Linked DNA regions of Homo sapiens. The protein of the gene in region 2 purifies or fractionates together with the protein of the main gene of each other region. This does not show direct contact. Each region holds a gene or a part of one and is shown on either strand. Other genes may lie near its edges.

Evidence for each region.
Region 1: the proteins of ECE2 (region 2) and RPS6KA2 purify together in Homo sapiens (affinity purification with mass spectrometry; 2 studies listed by BioGRID and IntAct, with this or other methods). This does not show direct contact.
Region 3: the proteins of ECE2 (region 2) and DHX40 purify together in Homo sapiens (affinity purification with mass spectrometry; 3 studies listed by BioGRID and IntAct, with this or other methods). This does not show direct contact.

Annotation. Positions count from the first base shown.
Region 1 is NC_000006.12:166,498,252-166,505,251, forward strand, and holds part of RPS6KA2 (ribosomal protein S6 kinase alpha-2), read right to left. Parts: intron 6,362-7,000; coding exon 6,255-6,361; intron 2,674-6,254; coding exon 2,636-2,673; intron 400-2,635; coding exon 257-399; intron 1-256. UniProt on the Homo sapiens protein: Serine/threonine-protein kinase that acts downstream of ERK (MAPK1/ERK2 and MAPK3/ERK1) signaling and mediates mitogenic and stress-induced activation of transcription factors, regulates translation, and mediates cellular proliferation, survival, and differentiation.
Region 2 is NC_000003.12:184,285,981-184,293,079, reverse strand, and holds the end of ECE2 (endothelin-converting enzyme 2), read right to left. Parts: intron 5,244-7,099; coding exon 5,133-5,243; intron 3,644-5,132; coding exon 3,545-3,643; intron 3,440-3,544; coding exon 3,362-3,439; intron 2,826-3,361; coding exon 2,722-2,825; intron 2,524-2,721; coding exon 2,413-2,523; intron 2,288-2,412; coding exon 2,220-2,287; intron 2,041-2,219; coding exon 1,850-2,040; intron 1,737-1,849; coding exon 1,641-1,736; intron 1,019-1,640; coding exon 842-1,018; 3' UTR 49-841; downstream 1-48. Other genes in the region: EEF1AKMT4-ECE2 readthrough transcript protein, read right to left, coding at 842-1,018, 1,641-1,736, 1,850-2,040, 2,220-2,287, 2,413-2,523, 2,722-2,825, 3,362-3,439, 3,545-3,643 and 1 more. UniProt on the Homo sapiens protein: Converts big endothelin-1 to endothelin-1. Also involved in the processing of various neuroendocrine peptides, including neurotensin, angiotensin I, substance P, proenkephalin-derived peptides, and prodynorphin-derived peptides.
Region 3 is NC_000017.11:59,575,610-59,582,609, reverse strand, and holds part of DHX40 (probable ATP-dependent RNA helicase DHX40), read right to left. Parts: intron 5,345-7,000; coding exon 5,245-5,344; intron 3,139-5,244; coding exon 3,052-3,138; intron 2,914-3,051; coding exon 2,731-2,913; intron 1-2,730. UniProt on the Homo sapiens protein: Probable ATP-dependent RNA helicase.

The sequences.
Region 1 (7,000 bases), on a different chromosome or scaffold from region 2:
AGCATAAAGAGGGTTCGACTCCTCCCACGTCTGCGTTTCTGCGTTCTCGTTTGCATCCCAGCCCCACTTTCTGATGGTGGGGATGTGGGATGGGGAGGAGGCTGCCAGGAAATGCTTGGCCTGGACACTTGCCCAGTGTCCCAAGCCCTCAGGCACTGCCTTCTTCCGCATTTCGGGACCTCTGAACCAACCTGGGGACAGGGGTCCACGTGGGGAACAGCCGCCATGGCACAGAAGAGGGTCGGGGCAGGCTCACCATGAGCACGCCGAAGGACCACCAGTCGGCACTCTGCGTGTGTCCTCGCCGGTTCACCACCTCGGGCGCCATGTACTCGATCGTCCCGCAGAAGGAGTACGCTCTCTTGTCGTGGTCAATGGCCTCCTTACTCAGGCCGAAATCTACATGCAAACACAGCACACACACTGCCTCAGTCTCTGGGTGTGTTCGGGGGTCCACACTCAGGCGGGCATCAGCGTCCTTCTGTGGGCTCTGCCCCCTCTCCAGGTGGGCGCAGCAGAGCCCTGCTCAGCAAAAGCGGGACCATGTGAGTGCTTCCCGAAGCCCGTCAGTGCCCGAAGCCCGCCGGTGCCTGAAGCCGAAATCCTCAAAGCGTGAGGAGTTCCTTATGAGTGTACACACTCAGGAGCGCCTTGGAACACCACCCAGACAGCAGGTTGTCAGTCAGTGACGGGAACTCCCCCAGACCCTTTTCCACAGGCACGTGGAGGTGGGGTGTTGCAGGGCAGAGGGACCTGGGGTGGAAGGCAGGTGTGTGGCTGACAGCTACTGGGAAAGGGGCTCTGGCTGCCGGGGAGCCAAGGGGAAGGCAGAGTGTGGCGAACCTGCCCTGCCCCGACAACACGAGGGTGTGGAGAGCACAGACAGGCGGAGGAGGCCTGGGGAGCAGAGGCCGAGCTATGATGGAAGAACAGGGATCTCCAGGTGCCACAGAGCAAGGAGGGGCTTCTGAAGGAAGTGGCCCCGGGGCTGGAAAGAACAAGAGTGCATTGGCTCAGGGCCCCCAAGTCTTGGGGATGACAGAGCGTGGCTAAATAGAGCCAAGGCAGGCCCAGCCAGTGGGTAGAGCAGCAGTGCCCAGAGAGGCCATGTCCTTGCCCCTGAGCCTGGGAATGGGCCACCTTATGTGGCAGAAGGGACTGATATGGTTTAGCTGAGTCCCCATCCAAATCTCACCTTGAATTGTAAGAATCCCCACGTGTCGTGGGAGGGACAGAGTGGGAGGTAACTGAATCATGGGGGTGGGTTTTTCCAGTGCTATTCTCGTGACAGTGAATAAGACTCACGAGATCTGATGGTTTTATACAGGGCAGTTCTCCTGCACATGCTCTCTCTTTGCCTGCTGCCATGTAAGACGTGCTTTTTCTCCTCCTTCTCCTTCTGCCATGATTGTGAGGCCTCCCCAGCCAGGTGGAACAGGGTGAGTCCATTAAACCTCTTTCCTTTATGAATTACCCAGCCTTGGGTATGTCTTTATTAGCAGTGTGAGAATAGGCTAACATGGGGACTTTGAGAACAGACTAATACAGGGACTTTCAGAACAGACTAATACAGGGACTTTGAGAACAGACTAATACAGGGACTTTGAGAACAGACTAATACAGGGACTTTCAGAACAGACTAATACAGGGACTTTCAGAACAGACTAACACAGGGACTTTGCAGATGCCATTGAGGATCTGGAGATAGGGGATGACCCTGGATTTCTGGGTGTGCCCAACACCATTGCAAGGGTCTTCAGGTTAGGAAGGGAGGCAAGATGCAGTCAGAGAGCTTGGAAGATGCTGCCTGCTGGCTTCCACCATGGGGGACGCAGCCCAGCCAAGGACTGCGGGCAGCTTCTACTAGCTGGAAGAAGCTAAGCAAGGGAGTCTCCTCTAGAGGCCCCCAAAAGGCAGGCAGCCCTGCTGACACCTTGATTTCATTCCTGGGAGACTTATTTCACACTTGGGGCCTCCTGACCTGTCAGGTGATAAGTTTGTGTGGTTTAAAGCCCCGATGTTCCTGGCATTTTGTTGCAGATGCTATAGGGAACTAATACAAATGGGGTGTCCTGAGACTAGAGGAGCTGTTGCCAGTTTGACTGAATTTGCTGGTGGCTGCCAGGGCTCAGATGGAAACAGGGAGGGAAGTCACGTGGCCACCACCACGGTCCAGGGAGTGAGAAGGAGGCAGGGACAGCATCAGTGAGGGCAGCAGTGCAGGCCGCACTCCAGCGAGACTCCAGATGTCTGCCCTCAGGTTGGCACTGGGCATCTGCAAGGCCCACATTGCAGGCTACACTCCAGCAAGACTCCAGATGTCTGCACTAAGGTCAGCACTGGGCACTGGGACTCCTGAACTAAACACCCAGCGACGCTGAAGGAGCCCAGCAAACAGAACGTGGCAGGGGAGAGGGAAAAGAAGGGGCCACCGGGAAGCTGCATGGGTCTGGACGTTATGAAGACATACAATGCCATAAGCAGTCTGTAGCTATAGAAAATTCTGCCAAATCAGAGACAAGCATCTGGCAAAGGGAAGGGCGGTGTAAATAAGAGGGCTTGGGCTTTGAGGTGGTCCCCAAAGGTACCAGGGCTGAGATGAAGCCATGGAGGGGGCCTGCCGTCTTTTACAAACCTGTGATCTTAATGTGCCCCTCTTCATCCAGGAGGATGCTAAAAGAAAGGGAGAGAAAACAGATGCTTTAGAAAGAGACCCAGCCTGCCGACGGGCACGCAGAGCTCAGAGGAGAGCTGCGGGGCAGCTGGGGGCGGACGTTTTCAGGGAGCCCTGATGGAGCTGGCCCAGGAGATCCCCACGGCTTGTGCGGTGGGCCTTCCCATCCTGCCTCGCTTCTCCACAGCTCCCAGCTCGAGAAAGCATTTGGTGCCACACCTCCTGGATAAAGGGATGTGTGTTCGTGCAGCTGGAGGACTGCTGGCTTTAGATATTCGTGGGTCCCCAGGGAAGGTCTAAGAGCCCTCCAGACTGCTGTGCGCAAAGCATAGGTGGAGAGCGTCCTGGGACTGCTGTGGCCTGTGGAGACCCAGAGCCTCGCAGATGGAATGTTTCTGCACTCGGGATGCCCTTGATGTCCAAAGACCCCCTTCTTCTCCCATGTATCCTCCCCTGAGCCCTGCCCTGGCTCTCCAGACCCACCCAGGTGAGGCCTGCACAAGCGGGGGCCAAGGCATCGAGGAGCTTCGGGCTTCAGCAGGTACATCTTGTGATGAGACCTGCTCCCGGCTTGGCACCCCTGCGGGCCACTGGGTCCCTGTCTTGTTCCCTGCCAAGCCCTTGTCACGCCATGTGCCGGACGTGACAGTTGCCTTTGCTCCTCCCAGGTATCCTGCCGTGGGGTGAACCCTGCATAGAGAATGGAGGCAGGGTCCGTAAAGGGCTGGGTGCAGGCATAAATCCCTTCTTCCCTGAACATCAGGCGGGAGTCTGGGCTGTGATACCTTGACACACCTGTGGCCCTAAACTTTCCCCATTTATTTATTTGGCTGTAATTAAATCCTGTTCTTCCAGATGCTGGGAGGTACCAGCCTAGCCCTAAAGAGACCAGGAAGTGGGCTGGAAAGAAACAAAGGCAAGGCTTGGAGGATTAATCTGTGATACCTTTATAGAAACCTGTGAAAGGAAGGAAAGCCTGACTTGCTACAGCACAGAGGAGCCCGGAGGACATTATGCTCGATTAAATAAGCCCGTCCCCAAACGACAGGTATTATATGATTTTACAAATATAAAATGTATGGTCCCTAGAGGGGCCAGAGTCACAGAGATGGAAAGTGGATGGCGGGTGCCGGGGGCTGGGGAGCTACTGTGCAGGGGGACAGAGCTTTAGTTCTGCAAGATGAAACAGTTCTGGAGATGGACGGTGGGGATGGGGGCCCAGCAATGGGAACGTGCTTAATGCCACTGAACTGGGCACTTAAACGTGGTGAAAACTGTAAAAGTCATGTGTATTTTTCTACAATTAAAAAAAATCTGCCACAGAGTTAAAAAAATAACCACTATTTTCTGGAAATGGGAAGGAAAAGTTACAGCATGTAATTAAGATGACAATTTATAATGAACAAGGCAAATCTTTTCATCTTTGCCTTTTGGGCATATTCAATCTTTGCCCAGAATTAAGCACCTTTCAAGATTAATTCTCTAATAATTCTAGTTGAACAACACAACCTTTTCCTTCAAGCTTGCAATTAAATAAGGCTATTTTTAGCTGTAAGGATCACGCTGACCTTCAGGAGCAATGAGAACCGGCACTCCCGGCCTGAGTGGATGCACGGGGAGTGTGTCTAACACACAGGCGTCAACAGCCAGGGCCGCACGAGGAGGAGGAGTGGCAACGTCCACACAGACTCACAACACGGCACTCCGACTTGGAGGGTAATTAATACCAGGTTAACTTCTGGGATGACCTTGGCAACGACCCAAGGTGACAGGCCAGGCTCTGCAATCACCTCCCAATTAAGGAGAGGCGAAAGGGGACTCCCAGGGCTCAGAGCACCACGGGGTTCTAGGTCAGACCCACTTTGAAATGGAAATCTGGCCTTGTGCTGCTGCTCTTGTGGGGAGACAGCAGCTGCGGAGGCTGCTCTCTTCATGGGATTACTCTGGATAAAGTCTTTTTTGATTCTACGTTGAGCATCCCTTATCTGAAATGCCTGAAACCGGAAGTGTTTAGGATTTGGGGATTTTGCAATATTTACTTATATATAATGAGATATCTTGGAGATGGGCCACAAGTCTGAAATGAAACAAAATTCATTTATGTTTCATATATACCTTCTACACATCACCTGGAGCTAATTTATAGAATATTTTAAATAATTTTGTGTATGAAACCACGTTTGTGTTAAGTGCTTATGTGTGGAATTTTCCACTGGGGGGTGTCCCATTGGGGCTCAAAAAGTTTTGGATTTTGGAGCATTTCAGATTCGGATGAGGGATGCTCCAGCTGTATTTACACACGTATTCAACTCACATGTGTGCCTGTGGCGTTCCACGGACTGGTGGTGAAGTCAGATCATCAAGCACATGGGCAAATGCATTTTGCATCCTGCAGTGGATATGGGATGTGACCTGGTTTCTGGGTAAACCCAGCTGTTTCCCATAGATGACAGCTGCATCTAACAACACCAGCTTCGGAGCAGGGCTTGTCTTTTCTCAGTTCCATGCAGGTGACAGGGCAGGAATGTGGAGTAGCAACTGGGACGCGTTTGCAGACCCCAGGGCCCCCCCTTGGTCTTAGCTCACAGGCACGGGGCTCTCTGGTGGTACCCAAGGCCGGTCGGTCCCACCAGGCCACAGGTGATGCCTCATCTAGGGGCGGCTATGGGCCCTGGTCTGGGTGGGTGGCATTAATCGGCCCCTCAGGGCAGGGAAGAGTGAGTGATCACCTCAGGGATACTGCTGAGGTCAACTCAACCTAAAATACCATCCTCCAAATCTCTTCTTTTCTAAGTGGATCACTCCTAGTTATGTGTCAGGTCTACAAAGAATATGTAAAAACAACAACAACAAAATGAAAATGGGAACACTATTATTTTGGAGGGACTTTACTGTTCAAAAATCTAGAATAGATTAGCAAAATATCGTAGAAATAATAGCCTCACAGGTCACCACTGCCAAGGATATACAAATCTCAGTGGACTCTGGGTCTGAGAATTCTGGGGCCGTTGTCTTTTAGGTAAGTTCTTGGGAGAGCTGTTCTGACTGGGGACCTAGAGGTGGGGCTGACAAGTAACTGAGTAGAGGTTCATTGACCACATTCCTGGGACTTGCTGAAGTAGATGAAAGGGCTTCCTGAATCTGGAGGACAGTAGGGAAGAGATGAGAGAGGAGGAGAAACTGCCCTGGAGGCAGCCATGTTTGAGATGGTCCCCAGTGGCCAGATGAGCCTCACCCAGGAGAGAGGGCGGGAATGTGGGTCAGGGTCGTGGGCGTGCCCCTCCCCAGCTCCGGCTTCCCGTGCATCACAGACATGCACCTGAGCCTGGCCTCCCTCAGGCGTTATGAGTGTCAGGTGAGAATGGGCCTGGGCATTTCCTATGCAAATCAGCAAGGCCACACCTGCATCTGGGCACCTGATGCCTGAGCCGGTCCTGCCGGCACAAGAGTCTCCCCAGCCTGCTCTCTGATATGTCCTCATTTAGGAAATAAATATCTAGCAGTGGCTACCAACATGGGCCAGGAAAATACATGGAGCTGATGGGCGTGGGGAAGTCAGCCCTAGTTTTTTCTCACTTACTTCTCAGGCTTCAGATCTCTGTAGATGATCCCCAGGCTGTGGAGATGGTCTAAAGCCAAGGCCAGCTCAGCCAGGTAGAACTTGACATCCTCCTCCGTGAACATGACCTAGTAAGAAAAAAACAAAAACAAAAACAAAAAACGTTTAACTTGTTTTATGGCTGGTGTGTTTTAAAGAACTCTGCCAGAGAGACTGAGAGTCCACACTGGGGTCAGTTTGCTCTGTGGAACGCTATGGCCCCCCAGAGTGGTCTTCTGACTCTTCTCATGGAAAAGTGAGTTCCCTCTGCAGTTCCAAGATCAGTGGATGGAGACGAGGGCTTCCTGCACAGGTGACTCATGCCGCCTTGAGAGTGGGGTGCTGAGATTCAGCCTCTCCTCTCTGTGTCCTTCTCACCCCTGCAAATCATTTGGCTCTGGAGTAGGTTTCTGGGTTTACATTCTAGCATGAGTGCTGCTCATGTGAATTCATAACAAATGTAATACAAGTAAGACGCTGAGGGCTTGATGAGGTGACTGAAAATGGGGCTCAAATATCATTCTTTCCCCATGGATTATCTATCTCCACTCCTTGGGTTGATGCAAACTAGTAGCCTACGTAACCTGCTGTCAACCCAAAGTGGGATTAGTTCTACCAAAGATCACCCACAGGTGGTACAGAGTTGGCTATGGGTGCCCCAAGCTGAGGGGGCGGGATGGGGAGGGGTTTCCAGGTGTTGGGGTTGGCAGCCACATTCCGGGATCCCA
Region 2 (7,099 bases):
ATGAGTGAATGGATACATGAAAACAGGACTGAAGGAAGAGAGACAGGCTGACGGATGCATGTCTGTTTATTGGCACAGGGTCCTATAAGGGCCAAGACCACACCCTCCCACCCTCTTTTCTGTAAAAATAAACTCTGTTCTTCCTTTTCCCTGCTCTATCTGCTTTCCTGCTTTGTCCAGGGAGAATCAATCATTTGCTAAGGCTTGTGCCCTAAGACACAGGAACCAGTACCCGCTACACATATGCACTTCCCCTCTCAGCCCAGGGAAACAGTGGGCAGCAGGAGGCTTTCAGAGGCCCTTGGGCTTCCACTAGGAGCTGTCAGTGAAGGTCAGCAGCAGCACTGGGAGCAGTGGCACAAGGAGCACAGGGTGAGGTGGGGGTAGCCCGTGAGGGTGAGCCAGACAGAGCTGAGTCCACCCCTAAGTGCGCACTGAGTGAGCCTGGGGAGAAGTCCAGGAGGTACACCACCCAGGCCTGTGGGTCACAGTGGGGCAGGCACGGCAGGCCCCATGGCCGCCAGGCTGAGTGAGCCTGGGGACAGAAGAGGCAGACTCCTTCCTATGGGAACTGGCCTCCCCACCCAGACCTCTTCCAGGCAGGGTGACACGGAAAGATGTCACAGTGAATGGTGGGGGCTCTGCTGGAGGCAGGGGCACCCCCAAAGCAGAGGCACAATGTGGTGATTGAGGAGGGTCTGTACTCATGTCACCTGTGGGGGGGAGGGACTAGACCCAGCCCAGCTTGCATTTGCTTCCTCCCAACCCAAGAGCAAACAGCTTTGTCAGGAGAGCTGCCCCAGGTCTGGTGACAGCTGGCCATTTCTCCCCTGATCCAGGTCTACCACACCTCACACAGCTGCCCTGGGTTCATGGGGGAGCCGACAGGGCAGCCGAAGTGCCGCAGGAAGTCACGGGAGTTGGAGAGAGTGCCCAGCACGCGGAAGCGGGCAGGGCTGTGGGGGTCGGTCACCAGCCCCTCGTGAGAGCTCTCTGGTGTGCGGACCGAGCACCACACCTGCGGGCCAGGACAGACATGGGGGCATATGGTGTCTAGTGTGGAGCCGGGCCTTAGAGTCAGCTACAGCCATCCCAGGGGCACAAACCACCACCGCTGCAGCCCCTCCCAAGTTCCTTCCAAAACTGCCCTGGACATCGGGTTGCCCAGCATGGACATGACGAGGGGAAAAAGCGGAGCCCCAGAAGCTGCCTGCTGTGGCTGCCCAGCGGAGGCTCTGCCTGGGTCCTTGCTCTGCCACTTACTCTATTCCTGGGCAGCCCTGGACAGGCCACTCTGCGTCCCGAGCTTTCGTTTCCTGCATGTCTCCCTCACAGGAACAGCGTGAGGATGAACGTTTGCCCCCTTCGCCACCCTGTGCCCCGCAAGCACGACAACCTTGCCCTTTGAACTATGCGAAATCCTACCAAGGCATTCTCCCGCTCAGGCCTCTTCAGGCTGCCTTTGTGGGCCCTGGCTGGCCGGAGGCTCTGGGCATGGGCCTTCCCAGCCCACCTTTCATGCCCCAGCCTCAGCCCCATTCACCAGCCCGTTTGACACGTGCCCCAGAGTTCTCCTAATGACATACTCAGGAGGGAGCAGGACAAAGGGGCAGACCCCAGGCCTTCCGAGAGGGTGATACCTGGGCAAATCCCACGAAGAAGAGCTGGTGGTTGGTGAGCCCCACGGCTGGCAGTTGCTGCTCCTCCCCATGCTTTCTCAGCCATGCTTTGTAAGCCTGGGGACAGAACAGTGGGCAACAAGCCCATCCAGGCCTGCCCCCACCCACCCGGCACCTTTCACCCCAGGCCAGCAGGCCTCAGCCGCTGGAGGGCTGGTCAGGCCACTCACATTGTAGGCAGCCTTCAGCCCCCCGTTGTCAGCAATGTTCTCCCCCAGCGTCTGGCGGCCGTTGAGCCTCTCCCCATTGACCTGGTATTGATTGTACTGTTCCTCCATGCAGGCCGTGTGGTTCCGGAAGGCTGCCAGGGACTCATTCTGCCACCAGGGCCGCAGGTTCCCTTCTTTGTCATACTCGCGCCCTGAGGAGAACTCACCTTTGCACCCCACCAAAACCAGAGCTCGTCTCTTGGGGGCAGCAGTGCCCCCACCAGCCCTGGTCCACAGACTTCAGGGCCCTTGGGGCTACATCAATGTCCCAAGGCCTTGCAGGAGCCACTGGGAATTCTAGGCTAGAGGGGACGACTCCATGGGCCCCTACCTTGGTCATCAAAGGCATGCGTCAACTCATGGCCCATGACCACACCGATGCCACCGAAGTTCAGGGCCCTGGTGGGTGAGGAATAGCAAGTGAGGACATGGCGGGGGTACTTCTGAATCCCACCTCCAGCCCTGCTCCCAGCTCAACCACAGGCCCAGGCCCCAGCACCCAGCCCCTCCTGCTTCAGACACACTTGGGGTGGTTGCGGGCATAGAAGGGGGCCTGCAGGATGCCAGCGGGGAAGACGATCTCATTCTTAGTTGGAAGGTAGTAGGCATTCACTGTCTGGGGGGTCATGCTCCACCTGGCGGAGGAAGAGTGAGGGGCTGAGGCTCCCGACTCTCCTGACACTGCTCCCCTCCCAACAGCCCTGCCCTACCTCCTGCAAGGGTATGGGGCCGCCGGTCTGGGACCAGTCTTGCCACCCTTTTCCCCCATCCCAGGAACCTTCCCCCACCTCTCCTGCCACCCCTAGTGTCTATGTCCACCCCGTCATTCTCACTGGTCTCGGCTGGGAGGCTTGCGGAGCTGGTCAGCCATAACCTTGGCAGAGAAGTTGTACAAATTCAACATGTTTTGGAAGAAAGAATCTTCAGAAATTTCGTACTGTGGGAAAGGTGGGAAGTAGAAAGAGAGCAAGAGAATCCATTGGAGAAGATAATAGCGCCAGTTTGGCTACTCATTAGTATCTCTCCAAACCTCAGTTTCCTCAACTGTAAAATATCTAGTAAACCATAATTGGCAATATTTAAAGGCCATTTATGTTATGGGTGCTGTTTTTTTACATACTGTATTCATTTATCTCACAACAACCCTATGAGGAAGGCACTAGTAGGACCCCCATTTTACAGAAAATGAAACCAAGGCCTAGAGAGATTTTGTTAAGGTTACAAAGTTAGAGGTAGAAACAGAATTTGATTAGGCTTGACTCCAAATCTTGGCTCGTTAGCACTATATTTCACTGCTGTTTGGCCTGCAGCCTGTCACAGAGCCAACATTTTAACAATGCTGGTTACCTCCATCTGCCTCTAAAAGAAACCGACAAGCACCTCTTTCCCAGTGCTTGAGCCCCAATTTCTAAGCCCAGGGAACAGTGCCCTCTACAGGGCTGAAGTTCAGTACTGATGAGCGTAGGTACTCACCCCGTCATAAACATCATCCAGCTCTTTGGGCTCCAGGATAAAGTCTGGGAAACCAATCATATCATAGATGGCATCTGCCTGAAGAGACCAGGTTAAGGGTTTGTTTCCTTCCCCAGGTTCCTAGCAAAACTGTATCCTTGAACCCCACCTCAAGATGGCGCCCCAACCCTAGCCACCGCTCACTTTCTCCTTGGCTGCCTGGCGGGTCTTCTCATCCATCCAAACCAGCTGTCCCAGGGCCTCCTCAAATGCGGTCCGGATTTCGCTGATCATCCCCTCTGCCTGGGAGGGAGGAGGTAAAGTCAGCCTTCCCCTGCACTGAATGCATCCCTGCCCCACCCATCCACCCTTGGTGCCCCATCCCTGTCCACCCAGGGGAAATGGGAACGTCTAGACTAAAGAAATACGGCTGAGCACCTGGAGACGATGAGAAGGAAACACCATTTGTAAAGGTACTGGGATTGTGGCTGGCTTTTTTCTTAATTAAGTACACATTTTAATTGACAATAAGTTCATCAAATTATATTATAATTTAATATAGTGCAATGATTTTTTTTTTTTTTTGAGACAGAGTCTGGCTGTGTTACCTAGGATGGAGTGCAGTGGCGCAATCTCGGCTCACTGCAACCTCCGCCTCCCGAGTTCAAGCGATTCTCCTGCCTCAGCCTCCCAAGTAGCTAGGATTACAGGCTCCCGCCATCATGCCCGGGTAATTTTTGTATTTTTAGTAGAGCTGGGGTTTCACCATCTTGGCCAGGTTGGTCTTGAACTCCTGACCACGTGATCCACCCGCCTCAGCCTCCCAAAGTGCTGGGATTACAAGCGTGAACCACCACGCCCAGCCTAGTGCAATGATTTTTATCTGATTATGAAAAGAGGACATTCACAGAAAATTTGGAAAATTGAGAATTGAAGAACAGACCAGTTATAAAGCACTCATTCATAGATAAGTTCTTTTAACATTTTGATTACCCACTTCTAGAGTTTTTCCCTCCCCTGATATGCATATAAAATATGGAATTATGTTGTATAGGGTATATATTTTTTGTAACCTACTTTTTTTGCTGAAAGATATATCAGCCATTTAAGGATCCTCACAACCCATCCTAACCACAATTTATTTTTCCTTTACCCTATAGTTGGACATTTAACCTGTTCTCATTTTCTGCTATTATAAACAACATTGCCATAAAAACCATAAACATCCTTACAGGTAATACTTTAAGCACATCCATTATCATATCCTAATAAATAAATATTTCTTCTAGTTATATAGTTAAACATAAACACATAGACAACTTTAAAGGACTCTTATAATCCCACTGCCCAAAGCAGCACTACTTCATTTGTTCATCAATTTACATCCAGTTGTTTTTCTTTTCTTTTCTTTTTTTTTTTTTTTTTTTTTTGAGACAGAGTTTTGCTCTGTCGCCCAGGCTGGAGTGCACTGGCGCGATCTCGGCTCACTGCAACCTCCGCCTCCTGGGTTCAAGTGATTCTCCTGCCTCAGCCTCCCAAGTAGCTGGGATTACAGACACCCGCCACCACGCCCGGCTAATTTTTTGTATTTTTAGTAGAGACCAGGTTTCACCATGTTGGCCAGGCTGGTCTCGAACTCCTGACCCCATGATTCACCCGCCTTGGCCTCCCAAAGTGCTGGGATTACCGGCGTGAGCCACCGCGCCTGGCTCCCGTTGTTTTTCTATATGTCTGCACATACATGAACAGTCAATTTTGAGGGCATAGTGTTGAAAGAATCTTGTAGACTCACAATTTCTTTGCTTTGCCGGTCAAACGTGGCCTTCACGAAGAGGGACCCCAAAGCAAAGCCAAGGGCGTCATCCGTGTTGGAGATGCAGGTCTGCCACCTCGGCACACAGGACTGTTAAAGGACAAAGAGCCAGGACCCTAGAGATGGCTGTGTCCTCCAGTCAGAGGGCCTTTCTCTGTCACTGGGGCTAGCAGCCCTTCTCAGCTCTGGACAAGAGTCCTGGGTTTGCTCAGTGCCACATCTGTCTTTTTTTGAGACAGGGTCTTGCTCTGTCACCCAGGCTGGAGTATAGTGGTGCAATCACTGCTCACTGCAACCTCTGTCCCCTGGGCTCAAGCGATCCTCCCACCTCAGCCTCTCGAATAGCTGGGACCCCAGGCACATGCCACCACACCCAGCTATTTTCTTTTGTAATTTTAGTACAGAAGGGGTCTCACCATGTTTCCCAGGCTGGTCTTGAACTCCTGAGCTCAAGTGATCTGCCCGCTTTGGCCTCCCAAAGTGCTGGGATTAAAGGCATGAGCCACCGTGCCCGGCCCACAACTAATTTTATATCCAGTCAGTCCCCCATGCAAGAAACCTGGGAGTCACTCAGCTTCCTCCATCTCCCTAACCCCCCACATTCAGTCTATCAGCAGTTTCTACTACTTTGACTTCTTTTTTTTTTTTTTTGAGATGGAGTCTCACTCTGTCACCCAGACTGGAGTGCAGTGGTGCGATCTCAGCTCACTGCAAGCTCCACCTCCCGGGTTCACGCCATTCTCCTGCCTCAGCCTCCCGAGTAGCTGAGACTAAAGGCGCCCGCCACCACGCCCGGCTAAATTTTTTGTCTTTTCAGTAGAGACGGGGTTTCACCGTGTTAGCCAGGATGGTCTTGAACTCCTTACTTCAAGTGATCCGCCCACCTTGACCTCCCAAAGTGCTGGGATTACAGGCATGAGCTACGGCGCCCTGCCTGCTTTGATTTCTTAATCATCTTTCCCATCCACTCAAGTGGACGGGGAAAATGATTACCACTTCCCTGACCTATAACACTATCATCTTGAACTCCTGAGCTCAAGCACTCCACCCACCTCAGCCTCCCAAAATGCTGATTACAGGCACGAGCCACCACACTCAGTCTGCAATTGCCTTTTTTTTTTTTTTTTTTTAAACAGAGTTTTGCTCTTGTAGCCCAGGCTGGAGTGCAATGACGCAGTCTCAGGTCACTGCAACCTCCAGGTTTAAGTGATTCTCCTGCTTCAGCCTCCCGAGTAGCTGGGATTACAGTTGCTTGCCACCACGCCCAGCTAATTTTTTGTATTTTTAGTAGAGATGGGGTTTTACCGTGTTGGCAAGGCTGGTCTTGAACTCCTGACCTCAGGTGATCCACCTGCCTTGGCTTCCCAAAATGCTGGGATTACAGGCATGAGCCACCAAGCCTGGCCTGCAATTGCCTCTTAACTGGACACCCTGACTCCATTCTCATCCCCGCTTCCCTGCTGCTCCCCTCCATCTTCCATTTAGCCACCAGAAATATCATTTCATACATAACCCAACTGTGTTTCTCCTCTCCATGCTACTCCCATGGAGCCCCATCTGTGAAAGAATCAAGGCCGGACTTCCCAATACAATATTCAGATCCCTTCCCAAGTGCCCCATGCCCACCTTACCAAACCCCGTCTCTCAGTTGCCCTCTTCTCAAGCTCATGCCAGAACGTGTGTAAAGCCACCATGCTCCTTTTGGCCTCTAGGAATTTGCACATGCCGTTCCTTGTCCCTGGAATGCCCTTCTCCCCGGCTTTCTTGGTGAACTTTTCCATCACATGGCACCTCTCAGAGAAGGCTTCTCTGATGCCCTTCCCCACCATCCCCCCAGGTGAAATGTGCTGTCCCACCTCTGTCCTATAGCAGAAAAGTCTTTCACTCAGTGTGAGCAGTTATCACCACAAAATATAATGTATTTGTTTACATGTCCACTCCCCCCA
Region 3 (7,000 bases), on a different chromosome or scaffold from region 2:
GACGCTAAATCTGCAAGTTCTTTTAACACCACGGAAATAATGTCTAAATGCTCAAGACAAAATCACTTATGGTGGTAGGTTTTCCCTCATTATTTCCTTCCACCTTAGTCATCAATTCCTTCTTATTCAGACCTGTTCTTGCATTTTCAGCTTTAAAATTATTCTTCCTGATGGAAAAGAAAGGGAAAGCAAAATAATAATTGAGAAGATCCATTTTCTTTCTGTCGTCTATGAATCCTATACCATCTACCCCAAACACTGGCTCTACCTCTCCTTATTCTTTATACAACTTTTTAAAAAGGAAGTCTTTGTTTTTTGTTTCAAGCATTTTGAAACATAATTTTGCGATTTTTAGTACACTATGGCTTTTAAGACTTAAGATGGAAAAATAATTCAATGCAGATGATATTAATTATTGTTCCTATTTTTCTAATATATACTCATTCTTGGTTAGAGGCTGCTCTGCTATCCTTTGTGAATATACTAAGAGTCAATGTCAAACTTACTGAGCAGCTATTTCCAAAAATGGCCCTTTTTCCCCAAATGAAAAAAATCAAGACATTATTTTAATATCTGGGTTCATCTGAAAGTTTTCTATTGGGCTCTTTGGATTTCTTTAAATGGCGCTTTCCTTCTTTTCATTGGTATAATTTATTGCTACAGTCAGAATTTCATTTATTACATGCTTTTCTCTTTCCAGTATCTACATATTCTCATTCAGAAAATCTCTAATCTAATGATAACTATCAAAACATTTTGAAATTGGCAAATTGGCTTTCCAAGAGTATACAATGAGTATTTGTGGGTTTTGGGGTTTTTTTTTGCTTTTTTTGGTTTTTTTTTTTTTTTGGAGACAGAGTTTCGCTCTTGTTGCCCAGGCTGGAGTGCGATGGCGCAATCTCGGCTCACTGCAACCTCTGCCTCCCGGGTTCAAGTAATTCTCCTGCCTCAGGCTTTCAAGTAGCTGGGATCACAGACGAGCACCACCATCCTGGCTAATTTTGTATTTTTAATAGAGACAGGGTTACACCATGTTGGCCAGGTTGACCTCAGGTGATCCACCCGTCTCGGCCTCCCAAAGTGCTGGGATTACAGGCGTGAGCCACCGCACCCGGCCTACAATACATATTTGGATGCACCTAATAATCACTTACTATGAATTTAAAAACTGCACGGTTACCATCCCCCAAAATTCCTGAGCAGTTTTACATTCCAAGGCAATTAAGACCAAAATAAAGAAGATAGTACTTTCCTCCATTAATTCCCCTACCATGTATGATAGAAATTTCTATCTATAACAATATTCTATCTTATACCAATAAATTATATTAATATTTGGCTAATTTAACTGTTCTTCCTTTATTTCACGTGTCTGAACCTTGTTTTCCTAATATAACTTAAGCTTAGTGAAAGCAAAAAACTACAGAGTATTACTCTGTCTTTCATGGTATATAGTATGATGCTGGCCATACAAAAAAAACACTCCACTTTCCAACTGTATACCCTTTTGTTTTGTTTTGTTTTTTTTGAGACAGAATCTCGCTCTGTTGACCAGGCTGGAGTGCAGTGGTGTGATCTTGGCACGTTGCAGTCTCTGCCTCCTGGGTTCAAGTGATTCTCGTGCTTCAGCCTCCGGAGTAGCTGGGACTACAATCACGTGCCACCAAGCTCAGCTAATTTTTATATTTTCAGTAGCTACGGGGTTTTGCCAGGATGGCCAGGCGGGTCTCAAACTCCTGGCCTCAAGGGATCCGCCCACTTTGGCCTCCCAAAGTGCTAGGATTACAGACGTGAGCCACCACGCCCAGCCCCCTTCTTTTGAAACAGGGTCTCACTCTGTTGCCCAGGCTGGACCGCAGTGGTGCAATCATGGCTCACTGCAGCCTCTACCTGCCCGGCTCCAGCAATCTTCCCGTCTCAGCCTCCAAATATCTGGGACTCAAGCATGCACCATATCAGACTTTTTTTTTTTTTTAATTGTAGAGACAAGGTCTCACTATGTTGCCCAGGCTTGTCTCGAAATCCTAGGCTCAAGCAACCCTCCCACCTTGGCCATCCAAAGTGCTGAGATTACAGGCATAAGCTGTTATGCCCAGCTCATTATATACCTTTCATTACAAATAAACAGTGGTCACTAAGTGATCCACATAAACATCAGCACAACCCCCTAACCCCGCCATTAAGCCAAGGTTAAACATGAGCAAGAGATCCTACTAAAGCAATGCAAGGAAGTCTTCTGTGTTAGTTTAGTTGAAAAGCAACCAATAGAGCCAGGCACAGTGGCTCACACCTGTAATCCCAGCATTTTGGGAGGCCGAGGTGGGTGGATCGCCTGAGGTCAGGAGTTCGAGACCAGCCTGACCAACAAGGTGAAACTCCATCTCTACTAAAAATACAAAAATTAGCTGGGCATGGTGGCAGGTACCTGTAGTCCCAGCTACTCGGGAGGCTGAGACAGGAGAATTGCTTGAACCCGGGAGGCGGAGGTTGCAGTGAGCCGTGATCGTGCCACTGCTCTCCAGCCTGGGCAACGGAACAAGACTCCATCTCAAAAAAAAAAAAAAAAAAAAAAAAAGAAAAGAAAAGCAACCAATATAAAAACCAACCTGTAAAAGAGGTTAGCCTCAACTCTCAGGGATGTATCAGTCAAATATTTCAAAATAATTTTTGAGCCAATAACTTGGTTCCAGGCTAACAAGTTTTTCCTTTTTTTTCTAGTTGTCTACATACCTTATGACATCGTGTATGGCAAGGCACTTTAAGGTCAGAACTACAGATGTCAAACTAGTTCTCTTAATTTCAGGGATCACATGGTCAGGCATACACTGGTTCCAAAAATCTTTACTATAGATCCGAAAGCATTTTCCTGAAGAAGTCCTGCCAGCTCGGCCACTTCGCTGTAATGCCTCGCTCCTACAAAAGGAAAAAAACCCAAAAATTCCCCAAAATGTTCTGTGGGTTTCTCAGGTAATTTACTTTGTCTCCCCAAAACAGCTAGAAATTACCTAATCAGTTGTTCTTTGAATAAAAAGATTTGACATAGAGACTTACTTTGAAATTGGAACCACCTCCAGGATGTCCAACCCTAATCTGGGGTTGTGATTTAACTGCTTCACGAAGCCACCATCTACCACATATCTAAGAAGAATCAAAGCAAGTTAAGTTTCTGGAAAATAAAAGAAGACTTGTTAATTGTTAACCACTTTGGTTTCTCCTTTTCTAGCAAACTAGCAGGTACACAATGCCTTTTATGTTAAGTGTAAAACTTGAAAGTCAAGAAATTGGAACCCTCGTATGTTGTTGGTGGGAATGTAAAATGGTTCAGCCGAGGTGGAAAATTGTTCGGAGGTCCTCAAGAAGTTAAACACAAAATTACCATATGATCCAGCAATTCCATTTCTAAGTGTACACCAAAAAGAACTGAGAACAAGTACTCAAACAAATACTTATAGACCAATGTTCATATCAGCACTATGAATCACAGCCATAAGGTAAAAACAACCTAAATGTCCATTAACCATTAATGGAAGAAGGGATGAACAAATTGCTTTGCATATATGTATGTAGTATATATACACACGCATATATACACACACAATGGAATATATATATATATATATACACACACACACTATGCAATATTATTCAGCCACAAAAAAGAATGAAGTACTGATACATGCTACAATGTGGACGAACCTCAAAAATATTATGCTAAGTGAAAGAAAGCAAACACAGAAGGCCACATATTATATGATTCTATTTGTATGAAATATCCAGAATAGAAAATACCTACTGCTTCCTGCTGACACATCTAAAGAATTTTTTAAAAAAGAAAATACGTACAAACAAAAAGTAAGACTGGTAGTTGCCAAGGGCTGGGGTCAAGAGGGGAATGTGGAGTACCTGCTTAATGGGTATGGGGTTTTATTTTGAGGTGTTGAAATATTTTAGAACTAAGCAGAAGCAGTGGTTGCGCAATACTGTAAATGTACTAAGTACTACTTAATTTTTCATTTTAAATGATTAATTTTATGTGAATTTTGCCTCAATACAAAAATACACAAACTTGAAAGTCAGCTTCAGACCATTTAAACAGATTCAGAATCTAATTTCAACTAGCCCTTAACATGCCATTCTAAGCCAATTAAATGGTGAACAAGTCAGGTAAGGAACCAAAGTAGGATAGCAGTAACAAGACAACATTCTGAAACATGCTATTTAATGGCTTTTGCCTGTGCAGGAAACAGAAAATTACAGAGGTTAATTTACCCAGGAGAGCACTCCCTTAATCCCTTAGTGAAACCATTATTTTTAAAGTAACGAAGAAAAGCAGAGGAAATTAGACTTCCTCTCAGACCTGGGTGATCATTTTACCCAGAAGAAACACACAGGATCTTTGAGATTCAGGTTCAGCCTTCCGGAGACAGACAATCAGACTTAGCTAAAGAAATAAAATATATTCGGTAAATGATAAATAACCCAGTCTTAAAGAACTTTGCATTAGTTGTCAGTCCAGACTTAAAATTTCTTAGTGTTTCCTTACTAAATTTACCCAAAAATTTGATAGCACTATTTACTACATCCAGAAAAGATAAGGGACCTGAATCATAGTTAATTTTCACAAAAAGGTAAAAAGTCAGAGACAATACATCCAGATAAACACTGGATATACAAACTAACTCTACCGAGTGAGGCTGCAAGGTAGAAGGAAATATCAAATCATCTAAGGTATATGCTTATAATGGGAGTACAGAAAAATAGGTTTGGCTTCCTATTTAGTGAAACCCATAAAGCATTATACATAATCTTAAATTTGAAAAGAAGCTTCAAGTTGCCAAGTAGTTAAAAAGTGTGAACAGCCAAGTACGGTGACACATGCCTGTGGTCCCAGCTACCCAGGAGACTGAGGCGGGAGGATTGGCTGATCTCCATACAAGGCTGTAGTGTGCTATGACTGCACGCCTGTGAATAGTCACTATATTCCAGCCTCAGCAACATAATGAGACCCTGTCTCTAAAAAAACAAAAAGTGTGAATAGGAATATAGTATGTACCTCCTACTCCATTTCCTGCTCAAAGCAATCAATAATTACAAAACAAAATAGGTGATTACATGTTAAGAACATCAAAAAGTAGGAGAGAAGGGAATTAGTGGAGGGCACAGAAAAGCAAACTCAGTAATGTTTAGCTAATGTTTAGTAACGATAGGCTTCCTTGACTTTAAGAGAAAGTTCAAAAGTTTTACCTGATTCCATCTATTGTCAAAGACGTTGCAGAAATATTGGTGGATATGACACATTTTCTAATTCCAGGTGGTGGTGGCAAAAATATCCTCCTCTGTTGATCTGAAGTATATATAAAAAGAAAATACCAATTTACAACATGCATGTGTCAAACTCGAGTTTTGAAGAACTTAATTTTTCATTACAAGTCATGTTTCTAGGCCGGGCGTGGTGACTCACGCCTGTAATCCCAGCACTTTGGGAGGCTGAGGCGGGAGGATCACAAGGTCAGGATATCGAGACCATCCTGGCTAACATGGTGAGACCCTGTCTCTAAGAAAAATACAAAAAATTAGCAGGGCGTGGGGGCGCGCCCCTGTAGTCCCAGCTACTCGGGAGGCTGAGGCAGGAGAATTGCTTGAATCTGGGAGGCAGAGGTTGCAGTGAGCCAAGATCGCGCCACTGCACTCCAGCCTGGGCGACAGAGCGAGACTCCATCTCAAAAAACAAAAAAAAAAAAACAGAGGCAAGAGAAAATCCAGAACATTATTTTCAATGTAGCAGTAAAAAAGAATGAAATTATTTACTCTGTATAGAATAATATATGTCTATGTACATATTTAGTTAATGATTAATAACAAACCAAACATAATGGGTTTTTATCAGTTTCAATGTAAATTATAAAAGCATCGGTGAACCAAATCTTGAGAAAACAATGAGAACCTTAAACAATGATCCTAAGAATTTCCCTGAAGATGACAAAATCTAAAATAGATATCTATGCTTCAATAGAGAGTAAGAAGCTAATATCATCATAAAAAAGATTTCCAAAATAGCACATCTATGTTCTTTACTGACACATATATTCCAAAACTTTGTTAATATAGGGATAAGAATCACCCAATCAACAAAAGCTGTTAATACGCATACATGTAAAATATAAAAACATTCAAATGCTAATTCCAACTCCAAATAGGAGGCTAAGGTTAATTTCCCTTTAACTTTACAAGTTAAATTCCATAATAAAAGTTTTATAAAACAAATTCTAAACCTCATTCAACAATATTTACTATAACCAAAATGTCAAATCAAGAGTTTGCATTTGCTCTTGGAATTCACCAAAGAACAGGATCATTCTTGAAAAGCAGACTAAGGCATGGCTACTTTAAAAGGAAAATGATCCACAGCCAGGCATGGTGGCTCACATCTGTAATCCCAGCAATTCTGGAGGCCAAGGCAGGCAGATGACCTGAGGTCAGGAGTTTGAAACCAGCCTGGCCAACATGGCAAAATCCCATCTCTGCTAAAAAAAAAAAAAAAAAAATACAAAACTTAGCCAGGTGTGGTGGCGAGCGCCTGCAATCCCAGCTACTTGGGAGGCTGAGGAAGGAGAATCGCTTGAACCCAGGAGGTGGCGGTTGCAGTGGGCTGAGATTGCGCCACTGCACTCCAGCCTGGATGACAAGAACGAGACTCCATCACAAAAAAAAAACAAAACAATCCACTGTGTTTAGACTTAGATATAGCTGGATATACACAATTTCTAAAAATTCTGTGGCAATGGCAAATTAGGTTTTGACTTACAGTAATACCAGCAAGAAACTACTGTCCTCATTTCAAAGAATTCTCACCAATAGTTTTGTTTTGCTGGGAGAAACAATACTCTAAACGATAATAAGGGGGATATCCACGACTCTCAAAAAAGTGAATGTAAAAAGACTTCAGGCAAAAATCACTACTGTCAAGGAATGCTGGTTCTCACTGATTTGTTTCATGATC